Linked DNA regions of Homo sapiens: regions 1, 2 and 4 are each reported to be linked to region 3. The links are microRNA targets in miRTarBase. Many come from high-throughput screens and were not tested one by one. Region 3 holds a microRNA gene; each other region holds the end of a gene's coding sequence.
What was found. The annotated mature microRNA hsa-miR-326 reads CCUCUGGGCCCUUCCUCCAG and lies in region 3 at 1,541-1,560, opposite strand. An mRNA with a match to its seed (bases 2 to 7 or 8) in the 3' UTR can be bound and repressed. Matches are read on the target gene's strand: a 7mer-m8 pairs with bases 2 to 8, a 7mer-A1 pairs with bases 2 to 7 and ends in A, and an 8mer does both.

Region 1: the mRNA of TRPC4AP is a reported target of hsa-miR-326. Seed matches in the 3' UTR shown: 7mer-m8 at 1,072-1,078, 7mer-m8 at 1,142-1,148 and 7mer-A1 at 1,262-1,268.
Region 2: miRTarBase lists AR as a target of hsa-miR-326. Seed matches in the 3' UTR shown: 7mer-m8 at 1,757-1,763 and 8mer at 934-941.
Region 4: miRTarBase lists ARRDC1 as a target of hsa-miR-326. The part of its 3' UTR that is shown has no 7-base or 8-base seed match.

The regions. Positions count from the first base shown.
Region 1 is chr20:35,000,737-35,003,955 of GRCh38, reverse strand. It overlaps TRPC4AP (transient receptor potential cation channel subfamily C member 4 associated protein), which reads left to right. Exons shown (of 19, transcript NM_015638.3): 18 at 340-546; 19 at 673-1,552. The coding sequence ends at 810. It overlaps MYH7B (myosin heavy chain 7B), which reads right to left. Exons shown (of 45, transcript NM_020884.7): 40 at 3,063-3,188; 41 at 2,798-2,968; 42 at 2,607-2,711; 43 at 2,430-2,525; 44 at 1,871-2,008; 45 at 1,519-1,779. The coding sequence ends at 1,768. Among named protein-coding and RNA genes, the nearest start is that of MIR499B, 12 kb to the right of the region's middle.
Region 2 is chrX:67,723,303-67,726,302 of GRCh38, reverse strand. It overlaps AR (androgen receptor), which reads right to left. Exons shown (of 8, transcript NM_000044.6): 8 at 1-2,617. The coding sequence ends at 2,462. Among named protein-coding and RNA genes, the nearest start is that of NXTAR, 60 kb to the left of the region's middle.
Region 3 is chr11:75,333,568-75,336,797 of GRCh38, forward strand. It overlaps MIR326 (microRNA 326), which reads right to left and starts at 1,619; the gene lies at 1,525-1,619. All of the region lies in intron 1 of ARRB1 (arrestin beta 1), which reads right to left. RefSeq lists enhancers at 1-54, 1,123-1,657, 1,658-2,191.
Region 4 is chr9:137,614,866-137,618,095 of GRCh38, reverse strand. ARRDC1 (arrestin domain containing 1) reads right to left here. Exons shown (of 8, transcript NM_152285.4): 7 at 3,096-3,230; 8 at 2,736-3,022. The coding sequence ends at 2,958. ARRDC1-AS1 (ARRDC1 antisense RNA 1) reads left to right here. Exons shown (of 3, transcript NR_122035.1): 2 at 1-162; 3 at 1,897-2,764. Among named protein-coding and RNA genes, the nearest start is that of ARRDC1-AS1, 2.4 kb to the left of the region's middle.

The sequences.
Region 1 (3,219 bases), not on the chromosome of region 3:
TCTGAAGCGGGATAACCGCCCCAACACACGCACCCAGCCCTGCCTGGGACGGACCTTCCGGAAGGAGTGATGCTTGAGCCCAGGTCTGGACAGGGACAGGTGTTGTTGCCTCAGGTGGGGTGGGAGGTGGGCGTGGGGAAGAGGAAGGTGCTCAGTCAGGAAACTGGGGCTGCTGGGGGCCCCCTTCCCCCAGTCCTATCTCACCTCTGTGCAGGGAGAGCTCTGTGGGTGGCCCGAGGCCTGGGGCCACTCTCCTCCCTGCCTGATGGCTACCCAGGTTCACCAGGGGCCACTGGGGCTCCCACCAGCCCCTGACCCTGTGGGCCTGTGGCCTTGCAGGAGAACGTCAGCTGCCTCAACACCAGCCTGGTGATCCTGATGCTGGCCCGACGGAAAGAGCGGCTGCCCCTGTACCTGCGGCTGCTGCAGCGGATGGAGCACAGCAAGAAGTACCCCGGCTTCCTGCTCAACAACTTCCACAACCTGCTGCGCTTCTGGCAGCAGCACTACCTGCACAAGGACAAGGACAGCACCTGCCTAGAGAACGTGAGTGCCCCACCCTCAAGGGGGTGATGGGTGGGCCGCGGACCCAGGGCCTCTCAGAGGGGTGTCCCGGTGCTGGGCTTGACCTGGGTCCTCCAGGCGCCCCCCAGCCCCTCCCTCTTTGCCCAGAGCTCCTGCATCAGCTTCTCATACTGGAAGGAGACAGTGTCCATCCTGTTGAACCCGGACCGGCAGTCACCCTCTGCTCTCGTTAGCTACATTGAGGAGCCCTACATGGACATAGACAGGGACTTCACTGAGGAGTGACCTTGGGCCAGGCCTCGGGAGGCTGCTGGGCCAGTGTGGGTGAGCGTGGGTACGATGCCACACGCCCTGCCCTGTTCCCGTTCCTCCCTGCTGCTCTCTGCCTGCCCCAGGTCTTTGGGTACAGGCTTGGTGGGAGGGAAGTCCTAGAAGCCCTTGGTCCCCCTGGGTCTGAGGGCCCTAGGTCATGGAGAGCCTCAGTCCCCATAATGAGGACAGGGTACCATGCCCACCTTTCCTTCAGAACCCTGGGGCCCAGGGCCACCCAGAGGTAAGAGGACATTTAGCATTAGCTCTGTGTGAGCTCCTGCCGGTTTCTTGGCTGTCAGTCAGTCCCAGAGTGGGGAGGAAGATATGGGTGACCCCCACCCCCCATCTGTGAGCCAAGCCTCCCTTGTCCCTGGCCTTTGGACCCAGGCAAAGGCTTCTGAGCCCTGGGCAGGGGTGGTGGGTACCAGAGAATGCTGCCTTCCCCCAAGCCTGCCCCTCTGCCTCATTTTCCTGTAGCTCCTCTGGTTCTGTTTGCTCATTGGCCGCTGTGTTCATCCAAGGGGGTTCTCCCAGAAGTGAGGGGCCTTTCCCTCCATCCCTTGGGGCACGGGGCAGCTGTGCCTGCCCTGCCTCTGCCTGAGGCAGCCGCTCCTGCCTGAGCCTGGACATGGGGCCCTTCCTTGTGTTGCCAATTTATTAACAGCAAATAAACCAATTAAATGGAGACTATTAAATAACTTTATTTTAAAAATGACTGCTGTGGACCTGGCTTTTGTCCCTAGGACTGTGTTTTTCCTCCTGAACCCCAAAGAAAAGAATGAGAAGGAAACTGGCTGTGGTGTTTATTCAGGGCCCAGGGAAGGCTGAAGGCAGCAGGGGGCGATGCAGAGATGGCAGGATCGGGGCAGGTGGCCTCAGCCAGATGTGCAACAGCAGACATTCCTCTTTAGAGCCCAGGGGGTCAGGCCGTCACTCCTTGTGCTGAGGAGAAAGGGATAGCTGAGTGAGCAGTACTACCTGTCAGCCCCCACAGTCCCCCTGCACAGAGAGCAATGCCCCTGCCACTCCTCACCTTGGGGCCCAGGGCGTCCCGGGTCCGTGCCCGCAGCTTGTTGGCCTGGGTTTCCGCCATGTCTGCCCGCTCCTCCGCATCATCCAGCTCGTGCTGGGCCTTGCGATACTTGGCCAGGTTGGTGTTGGCCTGCTGCTCCTGGGGGCACACACAGGGCCTTGGTTCCGCTTGGGTGACTGAGATGCTTATTCTGGTCCCTGCCCCAGTCCAAGAAGGGAGCTAGCTCCTCCTGGTTCTCAACTTTGTTCCTATTGCCACTGTCCATCCTCACCAATACCACAGCGGGAATAAGGAAGTTGGGACGCACCAACTTCATGTGCCTTTTTGTGCCTGCCCCACCCCTCAGAGGCAGCCCCAGCCTTGGCCAGGGGAAAGCACATGGGGTCTGTTCCATGAGAAGGAGCTAGGTCTGATCTCCCCAGAGATGTTAGAAGCTTCTCTCTTCCCTCTGGGTCACTGACCTTGGAGGGTGGAGCTGCTGCTGATGCCTCACCTGGCCACAGACCCTGGGGCAGAGCTGGGGTGCCCGGTCCAGGTGTCCAGGCCCCAGCGCACTCACCGCCTCCTCAAACTGGCGCTTGTAGCTCTTGACCTTGCTCTGCAGCTTGTCCACCAGGTCCTGCATGCGAGCCAGGTTCTTCCTGTCCTCCTCGGCCTGGGCGGGCAAGGGGGACTCAGGGCTTGCTTGGGCTGGGCCAGCTCCAGGGCCACTCCCCAGGGAGACCCTGTCGCCCACCTGGTATGCGAGCTCCTTGACACGGCGCTCATGCTTGCGCACGCCCTTAAGGGCCTCGGCGTGCTTCTTCTGCTCTGCATCAAGCTCAGCCTCCAGCTCCCGTACCTGCAGGCAGGGGGACAGCCTGATGCCAAGCCCACCCCTGGGTCACCCACCCTGCCTGCGCCAAGGACTAGAGGGGCTGCACACACCTTGGCCTCCAGCTTCTGCACCTGCTTCTTCCCGCCACGGAGGGCGGCCTGTTCTGCCTCCTCAAGGCGGGCCTGGAGCTCGCGCACCGTCTGCTCCAGCGTCTTCTTCATCCGTTCCAGGTGTGCACTTGTGTCCTGCTCCTTCTTCAGCTCCTCGGCCATCATGGCCGCCTGTTGGGGAGGAGGAGCTGGTCAGGTGCCCAGCCTCAGGGAAGTCCCTCTGCAATTCTGTCCCAGGCTCCCCACAGCCCTTGCCCAGCCTCACATCAGTGATGGCCTTTTTGGCCTTCTCCTCAGCCTCCCGCCTCTCCTGTGCAGCCTCCTCCACCTCCCCGCTCAGCTGGGCCAAGTCCGCCTCCAGCTTCTTCTTCTGGTTTAGGAGGCCTGTGTTCTGAGGGGAAGAGGAGTCTCAGAGCCAGCCA
Region 2 (3,000 bases), not on the chromosome of region 3:
GCTAAAAGTGATCCTGTACATGAGCCAGATTGTGTAATAATAAAGAAAACCAGAACATGTCTATCCCACCCCAAAAAGGGAACCTGTCAGCTTTAGTTTTCTCCAGCAGTCTTGGATTGGCATATTACTCATCTTAGGTTCCCCTCTCCCTTGTTATTTAAAGCTGTTTTGAAGTTCGTTTGGCTATTAATATCAATGCAGAAATCAGGGAAGGAAACCCTTGTGGATCATATCATGTCACTCAGAAACTATCCTCTCAACAAACAGAGTGAATCAATTAAAATGGGCAGCTTGATGACTGGCCCTTGATTTCTTGAGTTCAACAGATGAGATTAAGAGCTAAGTAAGGAGGCAGAGGCCAAGATGAGAAAGTAGGTGGACATTTTCCCTTGCACTTGGGCTTGAAGAACGAAGTCAACAGAACACAGGTGTGCCAAAAGACTATATAAAACCAGTGTCCCAGGGCACACCCTGAGTTCATGGGTGGCAAAGTATTGGAGCCACACCAACCAGACCTTTCCGAAAGAAGCCATGGTTCTGTAGAAAGTCTCAATGGTTTGGCCTCCCTCTGACTAAGAGGCAGCAACAAAGGTGGGGAATCTGAGTGAGTATGGGCAATGTCAGAGCCCAGAATCAGCAGCAGAGGAGGATGATGAGTAAACTCACCAGATGGTGTCCATCTGGCTTTAGGCTTTGCCGCTGAAGATTTTAATTCAGTAGTCAGAGTCTCCTCTTTGTTCCTTCTCTCTTCTCATGACTTCTGCAGGTGGATATGCTGGGTGACAAGAAGAGCATTTGCAGGGTTTCTGGTTCTAGTGCCTTCATTCTTCCCACCCTGGTAATTGAGTTTTCTCTTCAACCCTGATCTGGGTAGCCCCTTTAGCTGCTCTAAAGAAGGAAGTGAGAACTTCTCCACTTGCTGGGAGGGTATCATCTCTGGGGGACAAGGGCAAGACGCCCAGCTTGCCTGATCCCTTTGATGCCTTCTTTCCAGTTTGTCTAAGGGCTCCAGCGATCTGAGAGTTGGTAAGAAATCTTTGTGACTACTGGCATCTACAGATAGATGTCAGAGCTGTTGGCCTGCTAACCTTCTTGGTGGTGGGGGCTCTTAACAGAGAATCTGTGAACATGCCCAAAAGAAGCAAACAGGCTTGATGACCATGGCTGAAATGCAGTGTGATGAAATTCAGGCCCACAAAACACTGAAGGGAGGACATAAGGTGCTTGTGGCTTCACGGAGTTTGGCAGAAAACTTCATTCAGGTCTTTTAAAGGTGGGGAAAAGGTAGTGGCAGTGAGAGTTTAACTATTCAGTCAGTGTCCTAAGCAGGAGAACAGCCAAGCTATCATTTTCTTCTCCTCTGGCTCCAGCTCCTCCCTGACTCACACATGAGAAAGCAGACCTGGATCCAAATGGGGCCTTACAAAGGGTTAAATCTCTGCTCTCCTTCTTCTCAGTGGTCAGACTTTTCTGTGGAAGTCGCCAAGTTTTGGCTGAAGAGAACATTCAGTTCAAAGGTCTTAGAAAAACTATTGAAAGTCAATCTGAAGTTGGAGGCAGAGAGTGAGAGAGAAAAGGGTTTGGGGGTGAGGCATTAACATGCAGACAAATTTTCAACAACAAGCACATTTTCAGTATAATGAATTGCTCCACAGTTGAGCAGTCTAGCCCCCAGGGACCAAGGCTGTGGGCAGGTACTGATGCTCCATTGCCCTCCTTGTCCTCTCCTCTCTGTCCACCCCCCTGCCCAACTCAGCTCTGGGGTCACTCTGCCCTCTAATGGCAATAGCCATTGGCAGAAAATAAAGTCTCCCGTGGAGGGAGGAGATGAAAAAATCAGTAACTCCCCATGGGCCTGCAATTTTCACCTTCTCGTCACTATTGGCCTCTTTGGGGATTTCTATATGTTTGTATGTATGTGTGTATGTATGTACGTATTTATTTATTTATTTATTTATTTTTGAGGAAAAAACACTAGCAAGGTTTTTTGGCTTATTTTTTGTTTTGTTTTTGCTTTTTTTTTTTGTTTGCTTGTTTTTGTTTTGATTTCCCCAGATAATCTTAGCTCTCTAAACTTCCCGTGGCATAAGATAAGTAAACGTTTGTGTGGCTGGCACAGAGTAGTGCTGTAAACAAGCACAACTTGACACTGGGCCATATGAGGATCATCACAGATTTAAAGGCATACAACACCATTCAAAACACAGATAGGAGCCACAATGGGAAGCAAAGTCTGAAGGTGCCATGGGAGGGTTAGATAGGGAGGGAAGAAGAAAAAGAAAGGAGAGAAAGAGAAAAAAAAAGCCCAGCAAATAGAATTCAGGAACATGTTCATGACAGACTGTACATCAATAGAGGAAATTCCCCAAGGCACTGCAGAGGAGTAGTGCAGAGTTATAACAGGCAGAAGACATCTGAAAGGGGGCATGAGCTGGGGTGGGGAAATAGGGTTTCCAATGCTTCACTGGGTGTGGAAATAGATGGGCTTGACTTTCCCAGAAAGGATCTTGGGCACTTGCACAGAGATGATCTCTGCCATCATTTCCGGAAAGTCCACGCTCACCATGTGTGACTTGATTAGCAGGTCAAAAGTGAACTGATGCAGCTCTCTCGCAATCTGTAGGGAACAATAAGAGGGAGAAAAACAGGGTTGACAAGGAGGTGGCCTCTGCTAGCCTCTTCCCCAACCTCTGATTTTTGGTCTTTCAGCCTTTTGTTTCCTCCCCCTTCCCCGTACTTCCTTGGTCCTCCCCCATGAGGTCGTGTGTGTGTGTGTGTGTGTTAGAGAGAGACAGCGAGAGAGAGAGAAAGAAATGGTCTCCATGGAGTCACTGAGGGCTCCCAAGAGATGTCTTATACCATTGTAAGCTCTCTGACTCAAGACTTCTCCAGCTTGTGCTCTCACCCAAGCCTCCGCACTCCATCTCTCTCTCTCTCTCTCTCTCTCTGACACACACACACACACACACACACACACACACACACACACAGACAGACAAA
Region 3 (3,230 bases):
TGAGCACCTACTGTGTACCAGGCACTGTGTTAAGCCATGCATTATCTCATTTAAGCCTTACCACAACCCTATGGGGGTGAGGAGAGGATTTTATTACCCCCATTTTAAAGATGACAAAACCAAGGTTCAGAAAGATTATGTAACCGTCTCTAGGTCACAGGCATAACAAGCAGTAGGGGTGGGATCTGAAACCTAGCCGGACATCATGTTTGTTCTTCGAAGCCCTCCCCACAGCCACCTGTCTTAGGGAAGCACAGAAGGCAAGACATTGCTGCCAACAAACTCCGCTTCCCTGACTCTGCAGAGGGATGCACCGCACCCTGCCAGCCTGGCTTCCTTTCTGAGCAGGAAAGGTCAGCTCGGCCTGCCCTGGCAGCTCCCCTCAGGCACCAGACCAGCCAGACTCCTGACCCAGTCCCAGGAGCAGGAAAGGCCTGTCCAGACTTCTACTCTGCCCCACTCCCACAGAAGGTCCCATCCCAGGCCGGGCGCGGTGGCTCACGCTTGTAATCCCAGCACTTTGGGAGGCCCAGGTGGGCAGACCACAAGGTCAGAAGTTCAAGACCAGCCTGACCAACATGGTGAAACCTCATCTATACTAAAAATACAAAAATTAGCTGGGCGTGGTGGCATGTGCCTATTATCCCAGCTACTCAAGGCAGGAGAGTTGCTTGAACCCGGGCTGAGATAGCACCACTGCACTCCAGCCTGGGTGACAGGGCAAGACTCCGTCTCAAACAAAAAAAAAAAAAAAAAAAAGGCCCCATCCCGGTTACAACAGCCCCTTCCCAGGCAAGCCGTGCTCCACAGTTTATAACCACTTTCACCCTCTTGATTCGTCTGACCACCTCACCCCAGCAGCTTGTATCCCAGAGCCTAATACCAGGCCTGGCACACAGCAGGTTAATTTGACAGACAGCAGGACAGACTATCCCAATGAAAGGCATGGGCTCCCCTGAGCCATCTCCATCCAGCTTTCATCAGCATTTCCTGAGCTCCCAGGACAAGCCTGGGGCTAGACCAGGCAGTTTCACCTATGGTTCATTATTTTAACCTTTCCAGGAAGGTCTTATCTCCATTTTGCAGAAGAGGAAGATTGAAGTCAGAGAAGCCTTTCCAGTCTCTAATTTACATGGCAAGTGAAGCTGCAGGTTCAGCCTGCCCCAGAACTGGCTCCCCTGGATGCCTTTCAGGTGTTGCTTCTGTAGGGAGGGCTCTAACCTATGACAGATCTCTGCTGTGGGATGAGAGCCCCCTGAGGACATGCAGCAGATGTGGCACCAACATCCTAGCCCAAACGAAAACTTGCCACAGCAGGGCAGAGCTGGGCTTGGGCGCCTAAAGCTTACAGAGCTTGGAAGGTTTTTTTTTTGTTTGTTTGTTTGTTTTAAAAAAAAAAGAGTACAAAAATAATTTCCTTTTGCAAATTTCACAAAACCCCTGAGCACATGGACACATTGCTAGGCCTTGGAAAGGGCCCTGGAGCGTGAAGGGCTGGAAGCTGAAGCTGCATCAGCCTCATGGTGAATCCGCCTCGGGGCTGGAGGAAGGGCCCAGAGGCGATCTGAGCACCACCCGCCTTCACAAAGGCCCTGCCTCCAGCCCAACAGACAGATGAGGCTCCGGAAGACATTCCTTCTTCTTGATGGGAGTCCCGCTGCTACTTAACCCTCCCTGCAGTAGGTCCAAGTCTGTCTGTCTTTCTCTTGCCATGGTTTCAGAAGAAGCAGATCTTGGCCGGACGTGGTAGCTCACACCTGTAATCCCAGCACTTTGGGAGGCTGAGACGGGAGGATTGCTCGAGCCCAGGAGTTCAAGACCAGCCTGGGCAATGTAGCAAAACCACATCTGTACAAAAAATTTAAAAATTAGCCTGGGATGGTGGCGAACACCTGTGGTCCCAGCTACTCAGGAGGCTGAGGAGGAAAGATTGTGTGAGCCCAGGAAGTCAAGGCTATAGTGAGCTATGATCACACTACTGCACTCCAGGCTGGGCAACAGAGCCAGGCCCTGTCCCTGTCTCAAAAAAAAAAGAAGCAGAGCTCAGCTGAGTCTCGGACCTGCCTGCGGAGGTCTGCTGCTCACAAGGGCAGCACTGCCAGATTTCTTTGTGATCCTGGGGCACAACCCCAAGAGGAGCCTTCCATGCCTGGGCTGGAATCCTGGGCCTGGAATCCTGGGCTGGCAAGGGCTGCCCTATTAAGAACCCCATCCTCAAACATTTGTAGGGTATGATACAGTTTACCAAATGTTCCCACATCCCACATCCACATCCCGTTTGGCCCACACGACAGTCCTGGAGGTGAGCAGGGCAAGCTTTATTGTCCCCCTTTTATAGACGGGGACAAAACATGAGACTTGCTGTGCACCTATTGCATACTAAAGATGCCAAGGGGCTTTCCACACGTGACAACTCACAGATACCCTGTGAGAAACCAAGGCTCACTCAGTGTCTGGGGCTGGGCCTGAGAATGAGCCTGCAGCCCTGCTCTCCCATCTCGCAGCCCGTGCCTCTGCCCTGTCTCATCTCAGTCTGGCATGGACAGCTCAGAAGGCAGTGGGCAGGCACGCTGAGACTCAGTAGGTTGAGGAAGAAGAGGCCTCCAGCTACCAAGGCGGAAGAGTAGCTGAGGGCTCAATATATTTAATAGAAATCAAAAAAGTGAGAATCAACCGTGCCCTCTCTGGATGTGTCTGAGGAAGAGCACATGGCCCTTGGGAGCCTGAAACCTGTTTGAAAGCAGTCACCTTACAGACTCAGGGCCTGATGTCCTCCCCACACCCTGCCAAGCTGCAGATGGCCCCACCCCTACCTCCCACTGTCCACATGCTAGGCCTTCCAGACCCTTCTGCTGACTCCTCTCAGCGCCCAAGGCAGCCACCCAGTGCTTGCCCTGGCCTGTTCAAGTCCTACTCCTGTCCTTCACTAATGCTTGCTTAATTCGTGGATATACCTACTCTACGAATCTTTATGAGAAGATACTGTAGGGTGACCCACAGTCCTGATTTGCCCAGGAGTGAGCTGAGGGGTTTCCTGAGATGCGAGACTGAGACTGTCCCAGGAAAATTGGGATGGCTGACGACCCTCATGTACTGCATGCCTGGTCCCTGGGCTGGGTGCCAAGGACACATTTATCTACCAAACATAGTCACTGCCCTCAAGAAACTTCCAGTCGGAGAGTGGCTGCCACTCAATGAGAAACCACTGTCAAAGGCACCTGTTCAGCCCC
Region 4 (3,230 bases), not on the chromosome of region 3:
CCCCGCGGTGGTCAGCCCGCCTTATCCCAGCCCCGAGACCCAAAACAAGAAGCATGGACTGAATTTGAGGTTTCTGGATGGTCGTGTGAACCGAGGGGACGGGTACTGGACTGACAAGAAATGAGCCTTGAAGGTCAATCTGGGTGACACCCGAGTCTCCTGGTGAGTCGGACTCCGGAGAATTATCTCAAGTCCAGCATAGACAGCGCACATAGACAGAAAAGGAAACGGACAATCCCAAGTGCCAAGGGAACCTTCCCAGGTTTCTTTAGGGCAGCTAAACTGCTCTGTCAAAGCCTAAGTCCATTTATGACAGGCCGAGCACCCTGAGCCCTCGCAGGAGACACGAGCGCCTTCATGGCCCTCCTGCCCCGCACCCACCTCTCCGCCACCCCTGCTGTCTGTCCCTTCCCTGAAACCTTTATTTCGAGTGTCTTTGTGGCTTCCCTCTTTACCATCCTTGAGTTGAAATATCACCTCTTAAGGGAAGCCTTCCCTCTCCTCCCTAGTTAAAATGATACTGCCCCCCCATACCTGTCTTCGTTGACTTACTTGGCTCCATCACAGTGTGTGTCATGTGACTCTCCCACATCCTGATTTGGAATATTGTCTCCCTACTAGAATGTAAGTCCATGGTGCCTAGAACAATACCTGGTGTACAGGAGACAAAATATTTGTTGACTGGGCCGGGTGCGGTGGCTCACGCCTGTAATCCCAGCACTTTGGGAGGCCGAGGTGGGCAGATCATGAGGTCAGGAGATGGAGACCAGCCTGGCTAACATGGTGAAACCCCATCTCTACTAAAAATACAAAAAATAGCCGGGAGTGGTGCTGGGCGCCTGTAGTCCCAGCTACTCGGGAGGCTGAGGCAGGAGAATGGCATGAACCCGGGAGGCAGAGCTTGCAATGAGCTGAGATTGTGCCACTGCACTCCAGCCTGGGCAACAGAGCAAGACTCTGTCTCAACAACAACAACAAAAAAATTGTTGACTGAATAAAGGGAGTTAGAATGTGAAGAAAAATCCTTCACCAAGCAAACATCCACCCTAAGTGAAGGTGTGGGAAGCAGCTGCAGGCAGCTTTTTCACTCCATTTTTCCATCAGCTGCTACCCTTGTGTGCCCCTCAGCACTTATGTCAAGATGCTGCTCTCAGCACGTGACATGCTAACACTGCAGACTTCAGGTCAGTCCTGAGAGGCAGGCACTGTTCTTACCCACATTTTATAAGTGACTGAACTGAAGCAAGGGAGTGGTGAGAGGCAGTGATGGGATTCAGCCCAGGAGGCCTTCCTTTCAACCATATACTGCACTGCTTCCAGGAGGCGCTTCACAGATGACCCCACCTGTGGTACACTTTCTGCTGTTCTCCAATATTCATGCTGCCTGTCCCACAATTAGTAAAATTTTAGCCAAGTACAGGACTGCCTGGCTAAAGACCACATTTCCAACAGGAAGGGGACAGGTCAGAGACAAAAAGTGACAATCCATTTCCCAGTCTGTCCCTCAAAAGTCCCACCATTAGGCTGGGCAGTGGTGAAAGCTGTCAACAGCCATCTGGGAGCCAGGGATGGGAACCACTATGTAGGAATGACAACTCTGCCACAAGGCCAGGATCTGCCCCCTCTGGACTGTTCAAGAAATAAACTGTCATGCTATGAGGGTGGGGGGCTGTACCCTACAGTCCCACGAGTTTTTTGTGGGGTTTTGTTTTTTTATTTTTTGAGGCAGTCTTGCTCTGTCACCCAGGCCGGAGTACAGTGGCACAATCTCAGATCACTGTAACCTCTGCCACCTGGGTTCAAGCGATTCTCCTGCCTCAGCCTCCTGAGTAATTGGGATTACAAGCATGTGCCATGATGCCCAGCTATTTTTTTTTTTTTTTTTTTTTTGTACAGATGGAGTTTCACTATGTTGCCCAGGCTGATCTGGAACTCCTGACCTCAAGCAATCCACCTGCCTCAGCCTCCCAAAGTACTGGGATTACAGGAGGGAGCCACCGTGCCCGGCCTGGTCCTGTGCATTTTATAGATAAGGTAACTGACAAACCTAGCCACAGTCACCCCTTCGCCCTAAAGGAGAACTGGAATTTGAACCCAGAGCCTTCTTCACCACCATCTCCGTTGTTTCTGGAAGCACCCTCCAGGCAGGCCAGCCAGCATCACGGGGCCTCCCCTGGGGCTGGAACGTCTGCAGGATGCCCCTTTGAGAAATGCTGTTCCACAGAACCCTGCCTTTCAGGCCTTGGAGACGTGGGCAGGGGAGAAGCAGCGTCCCTCAGAGCCAGGCCTGGCAGTGGTGCTAGCAGGGGCCAAGGCCCAGGGAGCAGGGTCTCCTGTCGGAGGGACCTGGGCAAGCCCCTCCACGCGCCAGCGGGTTTCTCAGCAGGGGAGGTCCACACCACACCGCTTGGGAACCTGGGTGCCTAAACGCAACAGGAGCCAAGGCACAAATTTAACCAAACACCAAGGTTGCGTGAGGCCCCATTTCATGAGCCGGGCTCCAAGGACGTGTCCTTAGGCGGCTCTGGAAGGCCCAGCGCCAGCCCCCGTCCTCTGTTAAAGGGAGCCAGCCCCGCGGCTCCGCCCAGGCATGGTAGCCTGAGCGCGCCCCCAGGGTAGTAGGGGGCACCTGAGGAGCAGGGTCTGCCCTGGCATGAGCAGAGCCCAGGATGGGGTCAGGGTCAGGCCCTGCCAGAGGCTGGAGGGTGCCCAAGGCGAGGCCGGTGAGGCCCAGCTCTACAAATAAAGTGTTTTATTTACAGGAGTTGTCTCTCCAGGTCCCAGCTCCCTGCCACCCCCACCCCAGCCCCAGGGAGAAGAGGGCGGATGCCAGAGGAGCTGGCAGAGGCTGGGCAGGTCCTGAGTGGGCCAGGCTAGGCCAAGAGAGAAGGCACGAGGCCCTGGGCGCCCCAGTCCCAGGGCAGAGGCCAGGCCTGCCTGGAGAAGGCAGCACGGGGTCAGCTCTCAGGGGTCAGGCTGGGTTCCACGCCGCCGCAGCTCTGCTCATAAGACGGTGGGGCCTCTGCGGGAAGAAAGCAGGGTCTGCGTGGGGCTCTTGGCGTCCCCTCCCTGCCAAGCCCTGGCTGTCGACTCACCATAGGGGTAGCCCCAAGAACTGTACTCTGGAGGAAGAATCAAGGTGCTGGTAGTGGGCACTGGCCCCCCGGAGCCCTCTGCAAAGTAGGGGACAGTGGCACCTGTTGAAATGCACAAGGGAGGGTGCAGCGGGT